Linked DNA regions of Homo sapiens. The protein of the gene in region 4 interacts with the protein of the main gene of each other region in a biochemical or structural test. Each region holds a gene or a part of one and is shown on either strand. Other genes may lie near its edges. The genes, in order: NHLH1, KLF8, FOXL1 and NFIB.

Region 1 (7,285 bases), on a different chromosome or scaffold from region 4:
GCCGCCTTAGGAGACAAAGGCAATACAGCCTAGAGGGCCGGGAGGAGAGGGCTCAGTTGGGTGCTGAGAAGGGGGGCTTCCAGCCGGGCTGGCAGCAGAGAGAGTGACAGATTGTGTAGTGAGCCAGAGTGGAGACCCGCTGTCACCTTCCAGAGGCACAGAGAGGTGGAGACAGAGAAAGACAGACTGACAGAGACCATGTGGAAAAACAAGGAAAGAAGCTAAGACAGAAGACATCCAAGACAGGCTGTCCCTTCCCAGAAACAACAGCTCCTGCCCAGGAGGAGCAAGCTCTGCCTGTCTTGCTCCTGTGACCCAAAACACTGCCACTGTTACAAAATAACACCCTAGCCATAGGCCACTCCTGGGAAGGGTCAGGCGGTGTGGCACAGCGAGGGTTAATGTCGTCTGCTGTCCCTGCCAGCCGCTTGCCTGGTTGGGTCCCCAGGGCTCCCCACATATGTCACCCCCTCTCCTGCCAAACCCACTGCTTCCCAGCTCCTCCAGGCCCTCCCCCCACCCTCAAGGACAAGGCCCAGGCCCCTGTGTCTTCCCTACACACCAACCTCCCTCCCCTCCCTCAACGATCTACCTCTCAGGCTATGGGGAAAGATTTGTGAATCATGATCTGAAAAAGTGAATGCCTATAAAATGTAAAATAGCAGGAACACTCATTCTATTGTATCAGGTTTTGCTTGATTATCGGATTATAGCAAATAAAAGCCAGTGGAGATTTTTAAACAACAAAAAGAAAGTAAAATAACAACAAACTATAAAGCCATAATCATCCTCCTTATCCCCAGGCCCTGGTCTTCCTGTCCTCCTTGCAGCAAAGACCCACACACAACTCCAAGGGTTCTCCCTTTCACTGGGGCCAGAGGCCAGACAACCTGGGTTGGCCTCAGAGCTCTCCCCTGCCTCCACAATCATAATGCTTCAGATATATGTGTGTATGAAACTTCTTGCCACTTTTAAATCACCATAGGAGGTTGGGATGAGCACTTTATACAGTTCACCTAGCACTTTCCCATGCATTATTTCACCTGGGTGTCACTACTATAACAAAATAAAACTCAGCCAAGGTTAAGTGACTTATCCAAGGTCACCAGGACTTAGACCCATGTGTAGCTGCCCCCAAATTTAGTAGATGTAGTTCTTCCCACCATTTCATGCGTTTATGTCCTCTTTGTCACAACTATGTTCTTTTTTAGCTACTCCCCTAAGGAGCAAAAGCTGAAATCCTAAGTGAAAACTGGGGCAGGAGGCCCCAGAGTCCAGGATCCTGGGATGCCAGATGCAGAGGAGGAGGAGCAGCCCCCAGAGCACTCTTTCACCCTCCTCTCCCGTGGAACCTTAGCTTGAACTGCGACGGGTTCAGGCGGTGTGCTTCAGGGATGGAGGTTGCAGAGCTTAAGTATCTGAGCAAAATGGCCTGAAAGGAGGGAGCCCTGCAAGGGGTTTGGCTTCTTCCTGCATGCTCTATGCCATCCTCAAGGTTCCTTTCTGCTTCGGGGGTCTCTCTAGATTCTGCTTCTTTTTTCCTCAATGTCTTACTTTTTGGGATCTGGCCTCCCTGTTTCAGTAATAGTTCCTCATCTCCATCGTTCAGTTTATCACCTTTCCCCACCTTGTTCTCTTTGTCTCTGGTATTTTTTGTTTCCTCCCAACTGTCTGCTCTCTGCTTACCCCGTGCCTATGTGGCCCCACCTTGCCTTGGGGCCTCCCTCAGGACTCTGTCTCATGGTGTCAGTATTTCCCTGCCGCTGAATAGCTGTTTCCTCCACATATGTATTCATCCAAGTCTGTGTCTCCCTAGCAGCCTCCTTTTTTTTTTTTTTGACGGAGTCTTGCTCTTGTCACCCAGGCTGGAGTGCAATGGCACAATTTTGGCTCACTGCAACCTCTGCCTCCCGGGTTCAAGCGATTCTCCTGTCTCAGCCTCTCGAGTAGCTGGGATTACAGGCGCCCACCACCACGCCCAACTAATTTTTGTATTTTTAGTAGAGACAGGGTTTCACCATGTTGGTCAGGCTGGTCTCAAACTCCTGACCTTAGGTGATCCACCCGCCTCGGCCTCCCAAAGTGCTGAGATTACAGGCGTGAGCCACCGTGCCCGGCCACAGCATCCTCTTTTAAAGCCTCTCCCCAAGTCTCTATCTCTCCCATAGCTTGGGTCTCCAAGTCTTCCACAAAGCCTTGGCAACCTGGCAATTCTGTTTCCATTCTTTTTTTTTTTTTTTTTTTTAAATCTTTTTACCTCCTTTGTGTCTCAATCTCCCCATGAGACTGTGTCTTCCCATTTCCCTATGTCTTTCCCATGTCTGTTACCCAATGACTCTGGTTTCTCATTTTTTTCTCTCCCTGAGTCTCGGTATCTTCCCGTGTCTTTCTCGTCGTTTCCCTCCGCTTCCCCTGTCTCTGTTCATCTCCCCTTCTTTCTGTATCTCTCATCTCCCCCATGGCACTCTCTCCTGAGTCTCTTGGTCTCCCAATTTCTTGGATGGGGTGGAGGGCAGGAGAGTGGAGGAGGTAGAATTGTTGTTGCTGGGGGCTCATTAGGTGGAGATTGGTTTTTAATCAGCACCATGGCAATGATGATGCAAGAACTGAGATGCCACCTGATCCCCTGCCCCCCAGCCCCCCTCCTCAAGCCTCCTTTCCCCTCCAGCTCAGCCCATCTGCTGGCGCCTGGGCACCTGTCTGGGCCTGCCCAGGTGGGAGTTGGCACCTCCCAGACTCAGGGATGGGGGCAGGTGGGGGAGCTTGGGGAGGAATTATGGGACCCCCTTAGGGAATGCTTCACCCTGGAGAAAGCCCAGAAAAGGTTGACCAGCAACAGGGAAATGGCAAGTCCCTCCAGCCTGAAGGTGGGATGTGCTCCTACTAAGCTCTAGGCCCACTACACATATTATCTCCCTTAATTTCCATGGCAACCTAAGAAGCAGCTATAATCAACCCCATTTTACAGGAAAAGAGGTCCAGGCTCAAAAGGTTGTTATTTGTCCAAGGTCACACAGCTGACAGAGCCTTTTTCACTGTACCACACTACCTCTGGAGTCCTCTCCAGTCATGGTTCTTTTGAATACTCTCAAAGGTTCAGAGAAGACATCCAACAGCTGAGTGGGGAGAGAACTTCAGACACTGAAACCCTCTATGCACTGTCTCTCTATGCACTCTGGTCCCTGTGCTGCCCCTCCTCAATCCTGCCACTCGGCAACACACACATACACACACACACTCACACTTACATTCACATTCACACACACTTGCATATACATGCTGGAGGCTGCTGAGCTATTGATGGGAGCTTAATCAGTGCCCATTTGCATATAATTTTGTGTCTGGTTTTCTTATTGCTGATTTGATGCCCTCAAAACACACTCAGAGCCTGCCTAGGCTGCCCTGCCCTCCTCTCCCAGTGTCCTTCCAATCCTGGTTCTTCCTGTCTTGGCACTCCTCCACTCCTCTCCTTTTAGCCCTTACCTCTTTCTTCCTAAGAGCCCTCTAATTCCCAGTGGGTCAGGTTGGGCTGGCCAGCCTAGAAAAACTCCTTGTGGGGTCTGTGTCCCAAATTTGATCCTGCTCCTCCCCTTGGTGATGGGTTAGGTAGGAAGATAGCGGGTGGGGTAAGAGGGTATGGGGGTGATTGAGTCCCAGGGTGATGAGGGTAGGGGCCTGAACAGTTGCTACAGGCAGGCTGGCAAGCAGTGGGTACCAGCTTTATGAAGGATAAGAGCTTGAGGGCCAGGACCCTAGGGTCCTCTTCTGCATTTTAGTGCTACCCACTTGCTCTTTTCTCGGTTTCCCTGTTAGTACCTTGAAGAGTCTCCCTCTCAGGAAAAAAGAGACACCAGGAAGGGGCTGTCCAAGTCACGCTGGGACTCCGAATGGGGCCATGGCACTTAACCATAGCTTGCTGGGAGCCTCTGCCCTGCTGCCTCTGGTGTGGGAGACTGAGGGGGTTCATCTGTGGTCCTGCCCTGGCTCTCGCCCCAGCCCCACCCCTTCCCCAGCTCTCCATTTCTTGCTTATGAAATATGCATGGAGAACAGATGTCCCTGCTCCCCCGCTCCCCGCCCCCACCCAGGGCCAGCCCCCGCCCCCAGCTCCCGAGGGGTTCCCAGATCCCTCTGCCAATGGCTGCCTGGCCTGGCTGTTTAATATTGATGAGGGGGGGGTGGGCCTGGGCCAGCCAATGGAGAGCTGGGGGTGTGTGTGTGTATCTCCATATATATACATAGGGCTGGGCCAGCTCAGGTGTGTGTGTCTGAGGGTGTGTGTGTGAGTGTGGCTGGCCCCAGTACCTGGCCAAGCCCACCACTTCCACCTGGGCCCTACACCCCCACAATGTGTACCCCTCTTATCTGCCCTGGAGCCTGTACAGCCATGCCACGCTACCCCTGAGAGTCTAGAAAGCTGGTCACTAACTTTGCAGACGGATGAGCCTTGAGCACCCAGAGGAGACTGGGGCTGTCAACGCTGCCCCTTGTCCTGCCGGCTTGGATCCCCTGACAGGGTCCTTCTAGGTAAAGGGGAAACCATGGGCGGGGAGGGATGGGCGTGTCCCTCCCATTCTCTGGCTCAAGCCCCTTCCTAGAGCCTCCCTCTAGTTCTCTCCCTTGTGCGCTGTGTCTCTCCCTGTCTCCGCGTGTCCCTCTTCTCCACTCCTCCCCTTCGACTCTTTGTGCCTATCTATCCTCAGTTGGGTTAGGGCTGGCAGAAGTGGGGTGGGAAGTCCTGTCCTGCAGGCTTGGAATTGCTGCTCCCCTGATCCTTGGACCCTGGAACTTTGAGACCAGAAGTGGATTTGGGGGTGAGGACTTGATGGGTAAATAGAAGCTGCTGCCGGGACTGGAACTGGGGAGGACAATGGGGCCAGGTGGAGATGAGACTGGGGCCAGATGGGGAGCACGGAGAGGGGAAGGAAGGGCATGGCAAAGTGATGAGGGATGAAGGAACATAGGGACCGGGCAGAGAGAATTAGCCTGTGATAGATGTGATAAATGTGTTGGGAACTCCGCAGCTGAACTCCTGCTCCCAGCCCCAGCATGGGGGGTGGGGAGTTGGGGGCACTAAACATGTACTGGGAGGTGCTGACTTTGGGGCCTCCCACACTATTGCCATCCCCCCATAGTTCATTTGAACCCCAGAATATGGAATGTGTTCTCAATTTCAGCACTAACCACCTTCTGTTTCCTGTTAAGATTGTGTGTGTACTTGTCATCAGATGTGGATGACTTTGCATCCCTCCAGAGCTTCATAGCTGTTTGTTGGCTTGACTTGAACCTATCTTCTGTGTGGTGGGGTGGGGCAAGGCTTGGGAGGATCCTAACCCCTTTGAGAGTATCTATCAGACAGGAAAGCCAGGGCTGGGGAGGAAGGGGAGATAGTGATGGTGCAGGCACCTTGGTGCTTCTGTTTCTAATCATTCTTAGTTGAGCTGATGGTGAGTGGCCCACTGTTCCCCTTTAACACTGCACACAAGCAAAGCCCTTTCCCCAGCTTTTCCCAGGCCATGTTTGTGCTGCCTTGCCCTGATCTCCTCTGGTCCTAGGACAAGCAAACCTTAGCTGAGTCCCATAAGGGTAGCTCCAAAAATCTGTCTGTGTCCTCTGCAGGCCGTGTCTGAACCTTCCTTGGGCTATGGGAGAGTATGGGGGTAGAAGGTTGATTATGTTCCCTTTCCCCAATCTTCCTTGCCCAGCCTCCAAAAGGGCCAGGGAATGGCAAGGGCTGAAAATTTCGAAGACAGAGGTGGAGGAAGAGGCTGGTTGTGCACAGTGGGGTGGTGGTGAGAAGAGATATCTTCCCCTGGTTTTAGTGGACAGGATCTCATATCTACAATGGTTCTGCTGGGAAGGTTTGGGGAACTGGGAGGGGAGCTGTGCAGAGCTGGGGCAGCTGCGCAGAGCTCCATATGTCCTAGTCTATTCTACAATGGGCAATCTGTGTGTTTATCCGCTCCTCCACCTCAGGCAGCAAGGGTGGAGAGGGGCCCTGAGAGGGAGGGGACCACAGGGCCAAGGCTTGTATTCTCCCCTCACAACTGGGAAGCATCTAGAGTCATAGCTAACTTCTCTTGGGGCTGTGGCTGCAGTCTTGCTCAGATTTTTTCCTCCTTTTATTTATTCATTTAGATAAAAAACAGCATACAATTTATAATCTTAACCATTTTTAAGTGTACAATTCAGTAGTGTTCAGTATATTCACATTGTTGTGAAACAGATCTCTAGCAATTTTTCATCCTGCAAATGTATAATTCTATACCCACTAAACAACAACTCCCCTTTACCCCCTCCCTCCAGCCCCTGGCAACGGCCATTCTACTTTCTGTTTCTATGAATTAGACTACTTTAAATACCTCATATAAGTGGAGCTATACAGTATTTGTGTTGTTACTGGTTTATTTCACTTATCATCATATCCTCAAGGTTCATTCATGCTGTAGCATGTGACAGAACTTCCTTTTTAGGGCTGAATAATATTCCACTGTATGTATATAATACATTTTGTTTATCTGTTGTCTATTGATGGACATTTGGGTTGCTTCTACCTCTTGGCTATTGTGAATAGTGCTGCTATGAACATGAGTGTGCAAATATCTCTTTGACACCCTACTTTATTTGTATATATACCCAGAGGTAGGATTCCTGGAGCATATGGTAGTTCTATTTTTTATTTTTTGAGGAACATTTATACTGTTTTCCATAGTGGTTGCATCATTTTGCAATCCCAACAAGGCATAAGGGTTCCAATTTCTCCACATCCTTGCCAAGACTTATTTTTTGTTTGTTTGGTTTTTGTTTTTATAGTAGCCATCCTAATGGGTATGAAGTGATATTTCATAGTGGGTTTGATTTGCATTTTAATGATTAGTGATGTTGAACATTTTTTCATATGCTTGTTGGCCATTTGTATAAAATCTTTGGAGAAATGTGTATTCTAGTCCTTTACCCATTTTTTTCTTAAAAAATGTTTATTTATATAAATTTATGGGGTACAAGTGCAATTTTGTTACATGCATAGATTGCATAATGGTCAAGTCAGGGCTCTTAGGATGTCCATCACCTGAATAACATACACGGTACCCATTCTGTAATTTCTCATTTCACGCCCCTCCCAATCCCTCCTTTGCCCATTTTTAAATTGGGTTATTTGATTTTTTGCTGTTGTTGAGTTGTAGGATTTATTTATATGTTCTGGATATTAACCCCTTATCAGATATATAATTTGCAAATATTTTCTCCCATTCCATAGATTGCCTTTTCACTCTGTTGATTATGTT
Region 2 (7,026 bases), on a different chromosome or scaffold from region 4:
AAATACAAAAGATCAGTGAAACAAAAAGTTGTTTTTTGAAAAGTTAAACAAAATTGACATACCTTTAGCCAGGCTAATGAGAAAAAAAGAGAGAAGATCCAAATAAATAATATCAGAAATGAAAAAGGAGACATTACAACTGATATTGCAGAAATTCAAAGGATCATTAGTAGCCACTATGAGCAATTACATGTCAATGAATTGAAAAATCTAGAAAAAAATGGACAAATTCCTAGACACATATAACCTACCAAGATTGAACCATGAAATCCAAAACATGAACAGACCAATAACAAGTAATGAGATTGAAGCCATAATAAAAAGTCTCCTAGTAAAGAAAAGCCCAGGACCTGATGGCTTCACAGCTGAATTCTACCAAACATTTAAAGAAGAGCTCATACCAATTCTACTGAAACTATTCTGAAAAATAGAGGAGGAACTATTTCCAAACTCATTCTACAAGGCCAGTATTACCCTGATACCAAAACCAGACAAAGACACTTCAAAAAAAGAAAATTACAGGCCAATATCTCTGATGAATACTGATGCAAAAATCCTCAACAAGCTACTGGCAAACCAAATTCAACAATATATTAGAAAGATCCTTCATCCTGACCAAGTGGGATCCCTGGGTGCAAAGACAGTTCAACACACAAATCAATCAATGTGATACATAATATCAACAGAATGAAGGATTAAAGACCATGATTATTTCAATTGATGCTGAAAAAGCATTTGATAAAATTCAACATCCCTTCAAAAAACTGGGGATACAAGTAACACCTCAGCATAATAAAAGCCATATAAAACAGACCCACAGCTAGTATCATATCGAATGGGGAAAAACTGAAAGCCTTTCCTCTAAGACCTGGCACATGTCAAGGATGCCCATTGTCAACACTGTTATTCCACATAGTATTGGAAGTCCTGGCTAGAGCCATCAGAAAAGAGAAAGATATAAAGGGCATTCAAATTGGAAAAAAAGAAGTCAAATTATTTTTGTTTGCAGATGATATGATCCTATATTTGGAAAAACCTAAAAACTCCACAAAAAACTATTAGAACCCATAAACAAATTCAGTAAAGCTGCAGTATAGAAAATCAAACTAATCAAATCAGTAGCATCTTTATGTCAACAGTGAACAATCTGAAAAAGAAATAAAAAAGTAAACCTGTTTACAATAGCCACACATAAAATTAAATACCTACAAATTAACCAAAGAAGTGGGAGATGTCTACAATGAAAACTATAAAACACTGAAGAAAGAAATTGAAGAGGACATCAAAAAATGGAAAAATATTCTATGTTCATGGATTGGAAGAATCAATATTGTTGAAATGTCCATACTGACAGGGACAGGAGGCAGGGAAATTCTAGGCAGAAGTGGGCAGGTCCCTGGTGAGGGCCCCACCCTGAAGCCTGGAACCACAGTCCAAAGTGAGAACTTATATTTCCGTTTTCCTGCTTGAATGTTGCCTTTTCCAAAACCACCCATGGTTGACCCTGCCCCCTATCCTGTGCCCATAAAAACCCAGGCTCAGCTGGCAGAAAGAGGAGAAGCAGCTAAACGTTGGAGATTATAGTTGGATGTTGGAGAGAAGTGGCTTGACTTCAGAGGGACAGCTTGATGGCATAGCTTTGGAGAGGAGTCCAGATGGGGACAGCTGGAATCCAGGGGAAGATTACCTTCCCACTCCATCCCCTTTTCAGCTCCCCCTCCCACTGATAGCCACTTTGATCAGCAATAAAATCTCCCACATTAACCACCTTTGATTCATTGTGTAACCTCATTCCTCCTGGATGCCAGACAAGAACTTCAGTGTGGGTGCAGAAGGCTGTCACACTGACCCTCTGGTGAGCTGTTAATGCTTAAGCCATCTGCAAACAGCAAAGCTAAAAGGGTACTGTAACACTCCTTCTGGGGCTTCAAGGGTCGCAGGCACCCCGCCCCCCGGACTCTGCTGTGGGGTGCGCATAGAGTTTTGCTCCTGCCGGTGCCCAAAGGCACTCACCCCAGCTCCTGCACCCACTGACCTGTGATTCCCCTCCCACAAGGGGTAGAACACAGCAGGTTTAAGTGAGTGGAATTCGCCCCTGCTAGTGCCAAAGCGCCAGCTAGGTCCAGCACCAGTGCACTCCAGTTCCCACCCACGAAGGGGTCAAGGAAATATCCTGCTTCAATGCTACCTAAAACACAATACAGATTCAATAAAATCCCTATCAAAATACCAATGACATTCTTGTCTGGGCGCAGTGGCTCATGTCTGTAATCTCAACACTTTGGGAAGCAAAGTGTTGCTTTGTCAGATTGTTCACTGTTGACACACTTTGGGAACACAAAGAGGTGGGTGGATCACTTCAGGTTAGGAGTTCAGGACCAGTCTGGTTAACATGGTGAAACCCCGTCTCTGCCAAAAAAAAAAAAAAAAATTAGCTGGGCATGGTGGCACATGCCCATAGTCCCTGCTACTTGGGAGGCTGAGGCACAAGAATTGCTGGAAGCCAGGAGGTGAAGGTTGCAATGAGCCAAGATTGTGCCACTGCACTCCGGCCTGGGCAACAGAGTGAGACAACATCTCAAAAAAAAAAAAAAGAAAAAGAAAAAAAGACATTATGTACAAAAATAGAAAAACGAAATCCGAAAATTTATATCAAACCACAAATACCGAGAATAGCCTGTTATCCTAAGCAAAAAGAACAAAACTGAAGGAATCACATTACCTGACTTCAAGTTATACTATAGAGCTATAGTAACCAAAATGGCATTGTATTGGCATGAAAACAAACATACAGTGCAATGGAACAAAATAGAGAACCCAGAAATAAAGCCATACATCTACAAAGAATTCATTTTTTACAAAGGTGCCAGGAACATACATTGGGGAATGCGTGGTCTCTTCAATAAATGGTGCTGGGAAACCTGGATATCCATATGCAGAAAAATGAAACCAGAACCCTATCTCTAACCATATACAAAAATTAAATTAAAATGGATTAAAGAGTTAAATCTAAGACCTCAAACTATGAAACTGCTGCAGAAAATATTTGGGAAAATCTCCAGGACATTGGTCTGGGCAAAAATTTCTTGAGCAATACCCCACAAACACAGGCAACCAAAGCAAACAGGAACAAATGGGATCACATCAATTAAAAAGCTTCTGCAAAGCAAAGGATTCAATCAACAAAGTGAAGAGACAACCCATAGATTGGGAGAAAATATTTGTAAACTACCCATCTGACAACAGATTAATCACCAGAATATATAATGAGCTCAAACAACTCAATAGAAAAAAGTCTAATAATTCAATTTAAAAATGGGTAAAACATTTGAATAGACATTTCTCAGAAGAAGACATACAAATGGCAAACAGGTATATGAAAAGGTGCTCAACATCAGTGATCATCAGAGAAATGTAAATCAAAACTACAATGAGATATTTAAAATGGCTTTTATCCAAGAGTTAGGCAATAATAAATGCTGGTGAGGATGTGGAGAAAAGAAAACACTTGTGCACTGTTGGTGGGAATGTAAATTAGTACAGCCACTATGGAGAACAATTTGGAGGTTCCTCAAAAAAATTGAAAATTGAGCTACTATATGATCCAGCAATCCCACTGCTGGGTATATACCAAAAAGAAAGGAAATCAGTATATCAAAGAGATATCTGCACTTCCATGTTTGTTGCAGCACTATTCACAATAGCTAAGATTTGGAAGCAACCTAAGTATTCATCAACAGATGAATGGATAAAGAAAATGTGTTACAGATACACAATGGAGTACTATTCAGCCATAAAAAGAATGAGATCCTGTCATTTGCAATAACATGGGTGGAACTGGAGATTATTATGTTCAGTGAAATAAGTCAGGTATAGAAAGACAAATATCACATGTTCTTATTTATTTGTGGGATCTAAAAATCGAAACCATTGAACTCATGGACATAGAGAGTAGAAGGATGGTTACCAGAGGCTGGGAAGGGCAGTGGGGTGTTGAGGAGGAGGTGGTCATGGTGAATGTGTACGAAAAAATAGTTAGAAATTGTCTGGGTGCAGTGGCTCTCTCCTGTAATCCCCAGCACTTTGGGAGGCCGACATGGGCAGATCACCTGAGGTCAGGATTTTGAGACCAGCCTGGCCAACATGGTGAAACCCTGTCTCTACTAAAAATACAAACAATTAGCTGGGCGTGGTGGCATGTGCCTGTAGTCCTAGCTACTCAGGAGGCTGAGGCAAGATAATTGCTTGAATCTGGGAGGCGGAGGTTGCAGTGAGCTGAGAAGCCACCACTGTACTCCAGCCTGGGCAACAGAGAGAGACTCCATCTCAAAAACAAAAAAAAGTTGGAAATAACAAATAAGACCTACTATTTGATAGCATGATAGGGTGACTAGAGTCAATAATAACTTAATTGTACACTTAAAAAATATCTAAAAGAGTGTAATTGCATTGTTTGTAACACAAAGGATAAATGCTGCAGGGATGGATACCCCATTCTCCATAATGTGATTATTTCACATTGCATGCCTGTATGAAAACATCTCAATGTATCCCATAAATATATACGCCTACTATGTACCTACAAAAATTAAAAATAAGGCCAGGTACGGTGGCTCACACCTATAAACCCAGCACTTTGGGAGGCCGAGGTGGGCGGATCATGAGGTCAGGAGTTCGAGACCAGCCTAGCCAATATGGTGAAACCCTGTCCCTACTAAAAATACAAAAATTAGCCGGGCATGGTGGTGCGTGCCTGTAGTCCCAGCTACTCAGGAGGCTGAGGCAGAAGAATAGCTTGAACCTGGAAGGCAGAGGATGCAGTGAGCCAAGATTGTGCCACTGCACTCCATCCTGGGTGACAAAGCGAGACTCCGTCTCAAATAAATAAATAAATAAATAAATAAATATATAAAAATTCAAAAAATAAAATAAAAGTTGAAATTATAACAAAAAGATTCCTAAATGTAACCAACTTTATCTGATGAATTAAATAAAGAAACAGACAAGTATTGTATATACAACACTGTATACTCAAGTCTATAGGTGATTTAAGGATTTTCAAGGTTAATTTTGACTGTATTTGAGTTTCACTCATGCAGTGAATTTGCAACCCCAAGAAAGACGGGACTTCAACATCTAGCACAGAGCCCTGGGACATAAAATCCAGATAACCTGTTTCGAATCCTAATTCTTGGAGTGTTCAAGGCCAGTTTTATTTTCCATCAAATGGGGAAACTAAGAATAATGATGGTTAATTTTATGTGACAACTTGGCTGGGCTACAGTGCCCAGATATTTGGTCAAACATTATTCTAGATGTTTCTGTGAAGGTATTTTTTTGGATGAGACCAACATTTAAAACATTGTACTTTAAATAGGGCACATTACTCTCTATAATGTGAGTGGTCCTCAACCAATCAGTTGAAGACCTTAGTTTTTAAAACAAAGACTGTCCTCCATAGAGCAAGAAAGAATTCTTCTCACAATCTGCTTTTGGACTCAAACTGTAACTCCTTCTGAATCTCCAGCCTGCCGGCCTACCCCTGATGGGGTTTTGGACTTGCCATGCCTCCACAATCTAATGAGCCAATTTCTTGAAATCTCTCTCTCTCTCTCTCTCCATGTACATATATGCATACACACACACATACACCATACACACATATCCTGTTGGTTCTGTTTCTCTGGAGAATACTAATTAATACACTGTTCAACAGGATTATGGTGAAGATTAAATAAGACAATGCATTTAATCTTCATCCTATCTGAAATATGAAATAGTGCTATATAAATAGTTGCTATTGTCTACTAAAGGTCTACTCTTGTCTTTATAGCCTTGATTCCAGAGGCTATGTTTCTTTTAGGCCAGATCTACTCCCCAGCTGACTATGAAACCAAGGCATTCATATACTTTCTAGAAATATGTCTTCCTTCACCTCTTCTCAATCCCCAAACATGTTATAGAAAGAAAAATGAGTTTAAATTCTGTAATCACTACCAGGTATTCAATACTATTATGGCCCAATATTAGCACCCTATTTTCCTGATAACTGACCTGCTTGAATACCTGCATTGAGCCACCTTCTGAATTAAGTTGGACCTCCAAGTTGTTTATGAGTTTATCCATATCTGGAAAAGAGAAAAGGAAAAGACAACTTTCAGAATAAAATCTAACCCACTATATGCATAAATATGCCATTAATGTTATGTGTGTTCTATGACCTTTATCTTTCAGTGCTTACCAGATACTGATAAGTCATTGAAACCTTCTGATTTATTTTACTCATCAAGATGGACCTAACTTTTCCCCAATAATATTAGCTGCTCCCCTCCACCAAACTGCATGCAGGTAATCTGTTTCTTCCTATTTCTCCAACATGCTCTGCCTTCAGAGGAACATCAGTATAGCTACAGTTTTCAGTATTCTACCTTCCTGGTCTAGTTCTTGCTTGAAGGAGTTCCAAGCTCCTATATATATATTTACCCGAGTGAACTTATTTACACATCAAGGCCAAATCTCTCTAGAGACGTATTTTATCTGTCTACGTCTCTTAAATCTGCAAGCCAGGTGGGGTAATAAAAACAGTTTTCTCTTTCTTCTTTAGTTTTTCCTCTTAAAAAAAGGAATTAGTGTCTTAATTCAGCTGCCTTAAACCATCAGTCATTCATACTAGAAGCACCTACTAGCTTTCTTCCTCAACCAGATTTTCTGGGAGTTAGATGTGCAGCACTCACATCCCATAATCTTTGGCAAGGCCTTTTTTTTCCTAAGCCACAACTTGTCCATCTATGATTAAAAGATTTCAGACTATCCTCTGCAGAACCCTAAGGCTTCCATGGAACTTGGGGGTGGGGTTTGTTAAATTAAGGTTAGCTTAAAGCTTCCTCCTTACATATTTCAAGTTCAGCCTAAAGGTTTCCCCATCCATAATGAACCATAACCTAACTGGATGTGTAGACAGTGTAATCTACTGTTGCGCCAATCACAGAGTTTCAGCCAATTACAGGCAGTCAACAACTCAAAGTG
Region 3 (7,121 bases), on a different chromosome or scaffold from region 4:
TCATTTGGGAAGTCCCGCCCAGCTTTTGGGTCTCCTTCTGCATTTGCTGATTCAGTGGGACCACCATTACCTTCATGTCCTGCTCACTGCCTCCCAAGAGAAGGGAGGCCCTGGGCCCTGCTACTCCAGCTCTGGAAATCTTCCACTCTTTTCAAAGTGGGCGGGGAGGGAAGGAGGAAGAGGTCTTCTGGGTTTTGGTGGAACATAAGCAAGGACTCTGGGATTTTCTTATAATGTCCTGAATCTCCCAGCTCCAGGGGTGCTGCACACCCTCTCCTCTCTGGAGGGCCCCTCTCCCACTGTCTACTCCAGACAATCTCTGCCTCTGAGTCCTTCCAGATACCTGAGCATGTCAGACCCCAGAGCACCCACTTTTGGAGGACACTCACGTGGGCTGTGGTCCCTGTGCGGCCATTTCCTACTTTCAGGGTCTTGGGGTGTTATGTGCCGAGCCTCAGTTTCATCATCTGTCAAATGGGTGAATCTGCCACGCCTGCCTTTCACAGATTTAGTAAGAGTTGGCAAGAGAACTTCCATGGAGCCCTGAGTGTCCACACCTGGTGCTATTGTAAGATTATTTTCTGTCTTTGGAGCACTTCCTCATGGGACACCTGAGGCAGGTTAACTTACAGGGCGTTGTTCAGTTTCCTGGTTTGCAAAATGGGAGCGACAAAGGTTTCTATTAGGGCTGCTGTGAGGATGAAATGGCTCAGTACATTCTAGTTATTCATATTATTATCATCTGTCTCCAATGTTTTTAGGTTGTCAGTAAGGTGAGGGGCTAAACCCTTCATCTTTCCACCGCAGCTCTTCTCAAACATGCTACACGCGGTTGAATCATGCATACGTATGTAACACACACACAAGTCGTACATGCGGTAACTGTCTTTACGTTTGGAAAAGTGATGCAGATGTTTGGAAAGCGACACAGATTACTGTTAACTCAGGTTTCTGCTTTTTGCTTTCCAGTGAGGAAGGTTGAGTGGATGGCTTGGGGCGCAGTGGGAGGAGCTCTTGTCTCTCACCCGTCAGCCTTTTTATCTGAGGCCGTTTTCATCACCAATGCCTGGTCTCTGATCTGCCTCCCTGAGGAACGCACATGCGCTTTGTCCCAGGACTGGGAAGGAGGCTGACTACCCTCATCCCACGCTGAACCCCGTTTCTGCTCAAGCCTCAGAGTTGGAAACTCCAGTCCTTCTGGAGCATCCGGGCAGGCCAGAGATCTCAGGCTTTTCTTGCAGGCTGGGAGGTGAGCCCTCACCAAGTGACTTCTCAGATGACGCGCTTTTCTGGGATCCGAGGCTTATGAATCTACAGGGAACATTCAGTGTCCCCATCTGGCTCTCTAGGACACTCGTTCTAGAGGCCCGCCCGGCCGTCTCCCAGCTCGGCTGCCCCCCGCAGGCCCTTCGCTCTGGCCTCAGCCAACAGAGCCTCCGCACGAGGGCGCATCCGCTCTCGGACTCCTAGGGCTTGAGCCTGCACTCCCCGGAAATATGGAAATTGCCCCAGCGCGGGGTTCCTTCTAACAGAGGCCCCTCCTAGGCTCAGGTTACAAACTCATCAATCACCCGGGAGCCCGGGATTCAAACCCGCTCTGGAGCGGGGCTGGGGCGCAAAGCCGGAGTTCTACAGCTGAAACCTCCCGGAGACTTTGCACACTTCTGCAAACGCGCGGGGCTGGGTGTGCGTCTCCAAACCGCGACTAGAGCGTGGGCATTTGTTTTTTGTTTTTTGGTTTTTCTCTCTCTCTCCTAATCTCTCTCTGTCTCTTTCTCGCTCTCTTTTTTTTTTTTTTTTTTTTGCTTTACTATCGGTGCCCCGCCCACCAGCCTCCCGTGTCTCCGCCCACGTCCCGCCCATTACCAAATCGGGCAGTATTTATCACCGTACAAATTCAAGCTCGGATTTGCCTTAGAGTTTAGAAGACGCGCCGGGACGGCGGGAGTTTCGGTAGAGGCAGGGATGTGCGTGCTGGACTTCGGGTGCCGCGTGGGGAGCTCCAGGAGGGGCTGTGGGATAGGAAGGTGGGGAAAGGGTTGCATAGTGACACCGGTTTATCTCTCGGTCTGGGTGTGTTGGAGCGAGCGCCGAGGCTGGAGAAGGAACTGGATCCAAACTTGAGCTTGCTGGGGGCGCGCGGCCCCGGAGAGGTTGGGTGACCCCAGAGACTGTGGGGCCTGCGGGTTGCAAAGGCGCTGGCATTGAGGTTTCTTCACCCCAAGTTTGAAAGGGGTACGCGGGTGAGAGCGAGTGGTAACGAAAAGACAAAGCCTCGCCCCTCCTGGCCAGAGGTTCACCCCCAGGACCTAGGCGGGCGCGGCCGGGCTGCTCGCTGGACCCACGTTAGAGGAGCAGGGCCGCGGAGGGAGGCCCGAGGTGTCCCAGGGACTGGCCTGTCGCTCCCGCAGGCAGTGCCGGTACCCAGGCCGGTTTTTCCACCCTTCCTGCGACTTCCTTTTTGGTATTTTAAATTTACCCGCTCCCCTGCGGTCTACTTATTCCATGGGCTGGATACCCAGGAACCCCAAACACACGGGTTATTTCTGATTTTCTCATTTTGAAAAAGGATGCCCGCCACGTTTCCGTGTTCAGAGGCTACCTGGGCACTCACATCCTCAGCCGGGTGTGGCAGCGGCAGACACTCCCCCTACCCCTGTAAGTGCCCTCGGTGCCTCTCCCTCCTTCCTGGCCCACTGGCAGTGGGCCATTTCTACACCCACCTGCCATCCTCCCCCTTCCCTCATCTCTTTGACATGCTCACACGATTTGCTCAATGAGACGCCAGTTATCCGAATGTGTGTGTGTGTGTGTGGGTGTGTGTGTGACAGTGTGTGTGTGTTTTAATATTCAGGGGGTGGTCATAAACAGGAAGTAGTCACACTAGGTGCCTCTACCCTTACCCTAACCGGTGGAGTGGGGAGGAGAGGCCCCCTTCGAAATCAGCATGATTCAGGATTTTTTATTCAAACAGTGATGTGGGAAAATGTAAAATGAGATGGGGGTGGAGGGCCGCGTACACCCCAGGGTGGGTGGATACAGGGAGAGCAAGCAGGCTTCCCAAATGCCTAATGTAATCACGGGCCAGCTGCATGCACTTGTAAAGTTGTTATAACCCCCTCCTTGTTATAAACAGGAAAGCCCAGAATATAAAGCTGGAGACCCACATTCACAAATACCAGGCCTCCCGCGCCAGCTGCCACGGCCTCCTTTTATGGTGTTCCTCTCTTGCAACCTTGGCCCCATCAGGAGGACCTTACTTTTGCCCCCGGTTCTCTAAATGGGTTTATTTTGAAACCTTCCTCAATGGAGCTGTGGACCATGAGCTCTTCCCCAGGCCCCCAGTGCCTTAGGCCTTCCCTTCCAGAGAGACTGGGCTCCCAGAGTCCACTTTCCCTCCGATTTCCGGAGAGCCCTGGAAGGGAGGGTGTGGGAGAGCAGGTCCCTAGAGAGTGCCACCTCCTACTGGGTCTGCCACCTGTTTTTCCAGGGAGGGCCGCATCCCCTTCTCAGCAGACACTCAGGCTTCTTAGATACTCTCCCTGCCCCAATCTAAAAGGTTCCTAGGACCTCAGAAAGTGTTTTACTAGACTGTGGCATCTCGATATCTCCGGTTAAGCCTGGGAGAAGAAAAGACCTTTTGTGGGAGGCCCTGGCGTTATGGGGCTCCCCCAGGCCAGCGTAAAACTCATCCCTGCACACCCACCCCCATCTCCACCTCTCCTTCCTGGCTCAGCAGACCCTGCTCTGAGCCACCGCAGTCTACATCCTGCCTCACTGACTGTGTGTGCTTACAGCGTCAAGGGGTGGACGTGATATTTCAAACATCAGATCAGTGCGTTTATATATTGGGTGCCCGGAAATTTTTCCAAATAAACACAGCTTGATTCAACTTGGGTGGGCGGACTTATCAACAGACTAATTCTATAAACAAATGAAGGAATAGCCCCAAAACCGATTGGCTGGTATCAAAAAGACACGTGGAGGGAAAAGCTTGGAGTTTTTCAGCAATGAAATTTTAATTAATGTGGGTGGGCTGAGAACACAAGGACTGTTTATCATAGACAATTTATTTTCCAGGGCTAAGTCAACATATAACAGCAAACTTACAACAATTATTTAACATTTTTAAAGCCATGAAGAAGGGACAGAGCACGGAGCGGCCGGGGAGAGCGGCAGAGCCAGAGGCAGAGGCACGGCTGGCTCCCCGGGAGGGCCCTTGCGGCGCGGGGCGCAGTGCCTAGGCCGCCCGGGTCTCCTGCGTTGCGGGGAGCGCAGCGCAGGCTCTCGCTTGCCATGAGTCACCTCTTCGATCCCCGGCTGCCTGCCCTGGCCGCCTCGCCCATGCTGTATCTGTACGGTCCCGAGAGACCCGGCCTCCCTCTGGCCTTCGCCCCCGCGGCTGCTCTAGCTGCCTCGGGCCGGGCCGAGACCCCGCAGAAGCCTCCCTACAGCTACATCGCGCTCATCGCCATGGCGATCCAGGACGCGCCCGAGCAGAGGGTCACGCTCAACGGCATCTACCAGTTCATCATGGACCGCTTCCCCTTCTACCACGACAACCGGCAGGGCTGGCAGAACAGCATCCGCCACAACCTCTCGCTCAACGACTGCTTCGTCAAGGTGCCCCGCGAGAAAGGGCGGCCGGGCAAGGGCAGCTACTGGACGCTGGACCCCCGCTGCCTGGACATGTTTGAGAACGGCAACTACCGGCGCCGGAAGAGGAAGCCCAAGCCGGGCCCCGGGGCCCCGGAGGCCAAGAGGCCCCGCGCCGAGACGCACCAGCGCAGCGCGGAGGCGCAGCCGGAGGCGGGGAGCGGGGCAGGGGGCTCGGGCCCCGCAATCTCCCGCCTGCAGGCAGCGCCCGCGGGCCCCTCGCCCCTCCTGGACGGCCCCTCTCCGCCGGCGCCCCTCCACTGGCCGGGGACCGCGTCCCCGAACGAGGACGCTGGTGACGCTGCCCAGGGCGCAGCGGCCGTGGCGGTCGGCCAGGCAGCGCGCACAGGGGACGGCCCGGGGTCCCCTCTGCGCCCCGCCTCCCGCAGCTCTCCGAAGAGCTCCGACAAGTCCAAGAGCTTCAGCATAGACAGCATCCTGGCGGGAAAGCAGGGCCAGAAGCCGCCTTCAGGGGACGAACTCCTAGGGGGTGCCAAGCCTGGGCCCGGCGGCCGTCTGGGTGCCTCGCTCCTGGCCGCCTCCTCCAGCCTCCGTCCGCCTTTCAACGCTTCCCTGATGCTCGACCCGCATGTCCAGGGCGGCTTTTACCAGCTCGGGATCCCCTTCCTCTCTTATTTCCCCCTGCAGGTTCCCGACACGGTACTCCACTTCCAGTAAAGCAAACAATGGCACGGTTCTTCTCCCGGCCCAGCCTGAGCCTCCGCTGAGCGAAAGGCCACAGCTCCCACCGGCGGAGGATTTTAAAATGATCTTTGCCTGGGTCGGCCTGTGGGTTCAGGGAAGTGTTACCAACCATTGCGCGCAGGTGGGCGCGCTCGCCTGCCTTCTCCGAAGCAAACTTTTCCCAGCAACTGGGAGCAGCTACGGAGACTTAAAAGATCCCCGCGGGGTCGTGGGCACCGCACGTGGGCCCTGCAGGGACCTCCACCGCGGGAGATTCCTTGACGTTTGACCTGTCTAATGGAGTGTGGTCTTCAGCCGCCCACCGCAGGTCCTGCGAGTCCCGGGCATGCAAGGGCCCGCAGACCACCCAAGGCAGGCCTTACAGGTGCAGTTGAGGTCCTTTCGACCGGGGACCCCCGTATGACCGTCGCCTGCTTCGCTGTTGCCGTGTGGCTCAGGCCTTGGTTTTGAGCCCATCTGGGTGGTGGGTGGTCACAGCTGGGTTTGTTCCTGACTTGAAGTTGTGGAGGTGCCGGGGGTGACCCCGGGTTTTCAGGTTTTCTGAGAGATGTAGGGCCCGATGAGGATTTATGACCAATGTTCAGCTATAGAAGCTGATAACCACCCAGAGCAATAACACTTTTATTTTAAACAGAGACTTTTTCTCTTAATTTCTTTCTGGGTAGTAAAAAGAACATGTTTCATTCTTTGCATAAATACTTGACTCTAAGCATTGACCTTTGAAAACGCTTGTATTAACAATTTTTATTAAGAAAGTGCACTCTATATAACATCTTCTTGCATTACGATAGCTCATTAGCCAATACACATGCAGCTATGTAAGCCACAACAGCAGACGTCCTATCCTTTTGCTTTTGTTTTTAAGGGATCAAAATATTTCAAGGGATACCATGAGGAAGGGTGTGAGGGGAAGGGGATATGCCTTGGACAATGTCAGAGTTTTGATTTCCATGTTTTTTCAAGATCCAGGCTTGGTGGTCGCTATATTTTTCAGAAACAGATAATGAAAGACTACATTTAATTTAAAAAGTTGGGTGAAACAACCAAAAGCAGATGCAGAGAGAGAGAGGGATGAATGCGGGGGAAGAATAAGGGGACGTGCTGGTGTCCGCTGGAAGGGGCCTCTCTGGGCCCCAGAGGACCTGAGGTTTGATGGCAGGAATCTCCCAGACACTCCTGGCCCCCGCACCCCCTGCAGCCGCCCGCTCTTCCCTCCCAGCCCTGCCAGGCAGGCCTGGAGGCTGATACTAAATCAAAACCTTAAAGAGGTGACTGGCAGTCTGGGGAGGGGAGAAGAGGTCTGCAACGAAAATCTAATTAAGAACATTGAGATGTTCACAACCAAGTTCAGCTTGCAGCTTCCGGGGAAATGCAACCGACCTCTATGCCATCTCTAGCTGGGTAATCTTCGAGGCCCTGAAATGCAATTTTCTGAACCTCTAAGTCACTTTTATTTTATGTCATGTGATAAAGACACAAGTAGTCACGCACTATTGGAAATAGGTTGGGAGGGAGGTCTTTAAGATCGCTTTTAAAATAGTTTCCAGGACTTGTCTAAAAATGATGACAAACTTTGAATCCAGAGGGCCTGTTGGTCAATGTGTTGGAAAGGACATTTCAGGCCGGCAGAGTAATTGGATAATTCACAGGCATAGAGGTGACTTTTGGAAAATTCATTCTCCTATCCATGCTGAACCAGGCTTCCACGACTGGGTTCTACCCAGGCCAGTGGGAAGACTCTGGGAAACTTCAGGCCAGCC
Region 4 (7,026 bases):
GCTTATCATGGGGTTTATATTTTTATCTCCAGTAGTAACAACTCTATAAGATAGGTGATTTTTATTGTCTCCAATTTGTTAAGTGAGGAATCTGAGGCAAAAAGAGGACTAATAACCTAGCCAAGATTTCATAACTGGTCATCTGTGGCTAGGATTCAAATCCCAGCTCTTTGATTTCAGTGCTCCATGTTGCTGCACTACCCATGCTTCACATCTCTGAACTGCATCTAATTCCTTGGTCAGCCCTGAAGCTTTATGTAAAATCCAGTCAAATTGCCAGTTCTTAGAATCTAGTTTTGTTTGTTTGTTTCTCAGATGTATTTCAATTCTGAGGATTTTCAAACTTATTCTCACCCTAGGACAGAAGCAAGTAGGCCATAACCTCCCCTGCTAAGGTATTCCTCACACTCATTACACCCCCTTAACATAGATGAGAATGGGGTGGGCTGGGTGCAGGGTTACTGTTGTTTGTGGGAGTTCTCATCTCTAGTTTTGGACATAGACCAGCTAGCAAGCAGGCTCCATGGCCACTGTGGACCCTGCCCCGGTGTGACTTAAGGGTCATGTGGCATTCCCAGAGGCCTGGATTCACCACCATTTGCCAGAAAAGTTGTCTAATTCTTGAAATAAAAGGAGTCCAGTGGAATAGTAGCAAGGGTGAGGAAAGCAGTGAAATCGTGCAACGTATATTAAAGATGCCCAGAAATAGGTCAACGCAAAGTTCTGTATTTGCTGTATATACAAGTTCTGCTTTTTATGTTATTAGTGACCCTGGAACAAGGGTCGGGGTGCTGGTAACAGCAGTTCACTTTTCTTTCATCAGAGAAGGGTTTACAAAAGAACGGTGGCTTTAAGAGATCTTTGACATTATTCCAGCAAGGTGCTAATTGTGGTTGTGGTTTCCTTTTTCTTTCTTTCATTTTTCGCTTTAGTCTACCAGGTGCTACCGAGTCAAAAGCATTCACTGAGAGCCCACAGACCATTCTGTATGCATGGGCCATGGCAAATCAAACCGCATCAATAAACCTGTACTTTTAGAAAGGGAAGAAAAAATTTTCCTAAGAGATTATTTGGTATCTAAACTTTTTATTTTTGTTTAAACAAACCTAATTTGCATTCCTAAGAGTCATTTTTTAAAGTCCTTATTGTAAGCATATTTGGTTTTTGTTCAAACCATTGGCTTTAAAACACTTAAATTCTAGTGTATAATCATTTATTTTACTTTCTGCTTATATTGATCATTTTTCCTTTAATATTTATTTTCAGGTTACCTTGAGGATAGTTTTGTAAAATCTGGAGTCTTCAATGTATCAGAACTTGTAAGAGTATCCAGAAGTAAGTAAATTGTTTTGTTACTACTTAAGCATGCAGTATGATTTAAAATACTTTATATTTTGAACCTTAAATGTAGTATAAAGAGTGACCACATATTAGGAAAATTTGAATTAAAATCTTAAAACCTTTGATGAAATAACAATATATTTTGCTTGATTTTCTAAAATGTTTGCATTCAAATCATCAAAACTTTTTGTTGTACAAAAATAATTTTGGGGTTTTTCTGATTGCCATGTTATTGGTATTCATTTAATTCACTGTTCTCTGCATGACCATAGATGGCCATTTATATCAAAGGAAGTGTGATTAATTAAATGTACTCTATGTTGTTATGATAACCCACATAAGTTTCCTGTAGATAAGTGCTTTTTCATTTTACTAACATTTTGGTGGGGGTTGGAGATGCACAGGATATACACACTAACGTGCAGAGTGTAGAGGGATGCAGAAATTAACTTTGCAGATTGTAGTTGGATATAGATAGAAAGCATTGTTATCCAAAACAATGTCCAATTGTTTTAACTGGCCACTTCACCTGAGACACCATTCTTAGCAGGCTGGATCAGATTTTTCTAGGCTAAGCTCACCTGGCAGGCTACCTAAGCAAAGGGGACGTTACCTTGATTAACTCTTTTACTTATTACTAGCATGTACAAACATATCCAAGATGCAGATCTATATGTACTAATTATGTTAAAGAAGGTGACTCCTTTCTTCATACTCCCTTCACTGATTTAGCTTATTTATGTAACTTTGAAGGGTATATTTTCACCTGACATTTTGATAGAATGCATCACACTTCGGAGTGATGTTATTCAGATGATGTAGTCACACTCTGATACCTGCCTAAGTTGTGTTTCTCATTTGGGTCATATTTAGAGGTCATGAATAAGAATTATGATGATCCAGAAAGAACAAAGAGTAATCGAGTTACTGAGGATAAGAATAAGCAGTGTTTTAGAGTCTTGTTGTTCAGTAAAGGAATCTTCACGCTATCACTGACTGTCTTTTGAACCGTAGTTCCTCAAATAGCTCACATTTCTAAAGTGAACAGTGCAAATAGCATGTATAGCAGGGAGTGATACATATGAACGTTTAAGATCTTAAGTAGTTTATCCTTTCTGGTATAATTCTAGAGTGGATAAATGTATGCCCAAAAGACTTCTCTCATGGGTCTTTTTACATGGTGGCAGTGTAGGAGAAGAAACACAAATATCCTGTATTCTGGTAGCCCCAGGGTGTGTATTCGATGGGCAAGGAGATTGTCCAAGGCAGTGTACCTTAATGTGTTTTTCCAGATCAATATGTGATATCCAAAGGTATCCAACATTTGAAAGTTTTCACTTTTAATTTGGGAAGAAATATGCCTGACTTACCAGTAGCACTTTGTAGCATCAGGTAAGACAGGGGTTATCTGAAGGGGTGTGTGTGTCTTCCCCATACTCTTCTTTAGCGGAAAGGCTTATGGTGCTCCAGTTAGGAGGCTTATTAAATTATTTGCTTAAATTTGTACTTCTCTGAGTTCAAGTTCAATGGTATATTTTCATCCTTCTTAGGAGTAGGGCAGTAGAGTCAGCTGTCAGAAAATATTTATTTAGTACCTCATGATAGGTAATATTATGCTAAGGGCTGTCAAAGGAGAACCACATTAGAACCTTCAAAAGCCCAGATAGATATTTTGAAAAATCTGAATTTCAAACATTAAAACAAAGATGAAAATTATCTTTCTAGAACAGTTCAAAACCAAGGTAAATTTAATATACTTCATTCATTCATTCTTAACTTATAATGTCATATCCTAGAAACTTTTAGGTTATTTGTTATAACAAACATTACTGATTTGTAATTAGCACATTAATTATCTATATTCATTACGTAATTTATTCAGCAAACATTTATTTTCTCCTCCATATGTAAATAGGTGTCTCTGAAAGGCCTGATAAGTTCTCCTCCTAAGTGTTTTAATATATCCGCATCATAATCTTTGTTTACACAATTAAACTTCATTATTTATGAAATAGGGGTTTGCTAAGTAAACATAAACTTCAGCACAACACTATGTGTGTATCACAAATTCTGACTTCTTGAGGGTTTACAGTATGCTAGTGCTTTCAGTCCTCTAGGGTTTTACAATCATAAGACCCACTGATGTGTATGTTGACTTTAGCTAATGAAGCCATTCAGCATTAGGATAGTGATCTCTCTTTTGAATGATATTATCTCCATCTTAAAAGTTGATTTAGGATCAGCTTTTGGAGTGAGGAGAACAATAAGGGAGATTAAAGGTTGGCCTCTAACCCTTAGAATCTGAGGTTCTTTGGTGCTTCATTTCTAAGAGGATATCGGCATCCTCTTAAACATGATTTGCAGCTTTCAGCCTTCTTGTAGCTCCCTGGGAGAGGCGCTAACACTGATCTTTGCGTCTGATGTAAGTTCTTCCAGAGGCTCTTAAGCAGGAATATCTGACTGAGACTTGCTGTTCCCACACACTCTGTCATTAAATAATTTCCATGTGTGTTGTTTTAGTACTTTGGCCGTGTTTGTTAATCTACTTTCCTTTCTGTATCTCCCATTTAGTGTCAGAATGCATACTAAATTTTTACAGTGCTCATGCATAAATCCGTAGACAAATTATTTTATTGCTATCTTTACAAAATTAAAACATAATATGTGTACATATTTATGGAATCCATGTGATCTCTGGATCCATGCATACAGTGTATAATGATTAAATCAGGCTATTTAGGATATCTGTCATCTCAAACATTTATCATTTCTTCATGTTGGGAATGTTTCAAATCTTCTTTTTTTGCTATTTTAAAATATGTAATATATTGTTGTTAACTGTAGCCACCCTGCTGTGCTATCAAATACTGGAAATTATTCTTTCTGTCTATTATAACTGTATGTTTTTACCCATTAACCAATCTCTCTTCATCTCCTCACCTCCCCACCCTCCCCCACCTCTGACAACCCCTTCGATGAGATCAACTTTTTAAGCTCCCATGTATGAGTGAGAACATGCTATATTTGTCGTTTTTATTGCTGTCTTGACACTGCGGAATAATCTTTCTGGAACAAAATTTAGAAAAAAACAATTTCTGAAGATTTTAAAATTATCATTTACTACAAATTACATCTAGTTTATTTATGGGTAAGCAAATTATGTTAACTATGGAGCCATATGTATTCAATAGAAACTATAAATCTTTGCCTAAATATTGCATGAGCTTAATAAATTGAAAATAGTTTATGTAAGGTGGAACCTCTAAGTTTCCTGTTAATAACTCAGGTCTATGAATTGTATCCATTACTGTGATAGGAAGCCAGACAGATTGTTTACTTCACTTGAGCCCCTGAAATACTCCTTCTAGCATGTACCCCACTTCCAGTGTCATATAGAACATGGTTCTAATAATAAATTATAAAACATGCGGTTACTGTGGGATTTCTTACCTCACATTTTTTTAACCTTTGGTGTGCCTCAAGCCACAACAGACATAGCTACATTTTAGCTGTCCAAATAATTCAAGCCATCAGGCACTTAGTTACTCATTGGATACAAGTATTTTCTGTGTAAAGGATGTTACAGTGTATTATATAACATGAACAATCTATCAGAAGGCTGATAGATAATCCAGAAGTTTGGAGCTGTTACTAGTCATGTATATACTGATGTATTTAATTTTTAGTCCAGAAAGGGAGATGTTCATTGTGTATTCCGTGGTTACTTCTCTGTGATAAAGCTTGTACCTCCTAATCATACTTTCTTAAAAATATTTTAAGTTAATCTTAGCCTGCCTAATATTAAAATACAATTCAAAGGGTAGTGAACACATTTAGAATATTCATTAAAAATGAGGGGTAAGAAAACTTCCATAAAAATCTGCAATCCCTTTGGAATTTTATACTCAACTTGAGGCAGATGGGAGAGAGGAGGAGTTTAAGTAGACCACGTATGCTTAGAGTGCATCTCAGGGGCTCTAGAATTTTGTTGCAAAGCCCCAGAGTACAATTTCGTGTGAGCTTTTGAAGGGCTGATTAAGACAGGTAAAGAAATGGAAACTATTCTTAAGGAGTTCTTTGACACCAACCTGCCTGGTCTCCACTTTGCACATTATCTCTACCTATGATTTTGCTTCTGCAGCAGTCCCTGTTTAGAATGACCTCCCTCTAATCTCTTACTCATTCTCCAGAGTCCAGTGCCAGCTATGGCTTTTCGCAGACTTCTTGGACAATTCAAGCTGGTATTGGATTCTTTTTCCCTTGAAATTCTACAGCAGTTTTGGATCATGTCATTAATTTGGACAGTTTCATTTTCATCTATTTTGGTATTTATGTGTTTCGCATGAATGTTTTACTTACCCAGCTTGTTGCCCAATATTTTTATTAAGGGCAATATATGAGACTATTTTGTACACATTGCAGCCAACACCTGCCAGCAGTGGACACAGTCAGTAATTTGTTGAATGAACAAATTTTCAGCGAACAGGTTCATTTATACCTCTTCCTCTGCTTTTAACACGTTTTTGAACTGTTCATCTTTGCTAACCATTCCAGTCTACCAGGGAAGAAGTTTGGAGGAGAAAGCAAAGAAGGAAGGGAACTCACAATGGTTGAGCACGTGTTATACACTAGGCATGATTCTAGGCTCTTATCACTACCTATTTCATTTCATCCTCAAAATAATCCTATGTGTCCGGTTATTATTACTCCCATTTTACAGTTAGGAAACTAGGGCACATAACTTATAATACAGAGGGAGTTTAAACTAAAAGGCTATTTATCTCTCAAGACTCTGCTGATTCTAACACAATATGCTGCCTCACAGCTTTGTTCATGATATCTAAAATTAAATTTAAAAAATGTGAACAGATGTAATTATACAAAATATCATGAGATATTTTGATAAAGACATACAATGCATAATAATCACATCAGGGTAAATGGGGTATCCATCACCTGAAGCATTTATCCTTTGTGTTACAAACCAAAAATTATTATTCTATATTATCAACATTAATATCAACATTAATATTTGAGTGGATTAGAAGTCATGATATTAATAATTATTATCATATCCTAACTGGGAGGCTGTGAATAATGATTTTTGCTTTTTTTTGTGAAACGGTTCTCTGTTTATTTATTTAACAATGATTTGGTTTTCGAGAGCCTAGGTAGTGCAAAGCAGCTTGTTTGGTGTTGCTGAGTGATAGGACTCGTATATTCTGTTTCCTCCAAGGCATTTTTAACTAGCAGAGTGACAGATGTAATGTCAACTAATATAAAGGAGTGAGTAAAGAAGGTTGAGGAATAGGATTCGGGAAATTGGTAACCAGTGATTATAATCTGATTGCCTCAAATTTCCAAGCTTGAACGTTGCTAAGGTGAGCAAGTTTTCAGGTCCTACCCAGGTTGTATGGTGGGTATTAGAGGCTTAAGGTGAAGAAAGTTCTCTCTATCTTTGACCAGAGGCATGAAAGATTCTCGATTATTACATTTGAATAGAGGTCAGAAATACGAATGTCATTCCCAGTGCTTCTTTGTCTTATTCCTCAGCGCCCATAACCCAGGGAACTGGAGTCAACTTCCCAATTGGAGAAATCCCAAGCCAACCATACTATCATGACATGAACTCGGGGGTCAATCTTCAGAGGTCTCTGTCTTCTCCACCAAGCAGGTACTGAAAGA

Evidence for each region.
Region 1: the proteins of NFIB (region 4) and NHLH1 form a complex in vitro, tested with the Homo sapiens proteins (one study listed by BioGRID).
Region 2: the proteins of NFIB (region 4) and KLF8 form a complex in vitro, tested with the Homo sapiens proteins (one study listed by BioGRID).
Region 3: the proteins of NFIB (region 4) and FOXL1 form a complex in vitro, tested with the Homo sapiens proteins (one study listed by BioGRID).

What each region holds. Positions count from the first base shown.
Region 1 is NC_000001.11:160,362,812-160,370,096, forward strand, and holds the start of NHLH1 (helix-loop-helix protein 1), read left to right. Parts: upstream 1-4,259; 5' UTR 4,260-4,526; intron 4,527-7,285. UniProt on the Homo sapiens protein: May serve as DNA-binding protein and may be involved in the control of cell-type determination, possibly within the developing nervous system.
Region 2 is NC_000023.11:56,249,333-56,256,358, reverse strand, and holds part of KLF8 (Krueppel-like factor 8), read right to left. Parts: intron 6,129-7,026; coding exon 6,055-6,128; intron 1-6,054. UniProt on the Homo sapiens protein: Transcriptional repressor and activator. Binds to CACCC-boxes promoter elements. Also binds the GT-box of cyclin D1 promoter and mediates cell cycle progression at G(1) phase as a downstream target of focal adhesion kinase (FAK).
Region 3 is NC_000016.10:86,574,428-86,581,548, forward strand, and holds the start of FOXL1 (forkhead box protein L1), read left to right. Parts: upstream 1-4,121; 5' UTR 4,122-4,296; coding exon 4,297-5,334; 3' UTR 5,335-7,121. UniProt on the Homo sapiens protein: Transcription factor required for proper proliferation and differentiation in the gastrointestinal epithelium. Target gene of the hedgehog (Hh) signaling pathway via GLI2 and GLI3 transcription factors.
Region 4 is NC_000009.12:14,150,134-14,157,159, reverse strand, and holds part of NFIB (nuclear factor 1 B-type), read left to right. Parts: intron 1-1,266; coding exon 1,267-1,335; intron 1,336-6,894; coding exon 6,895-7,015; intron 7,016-7,026.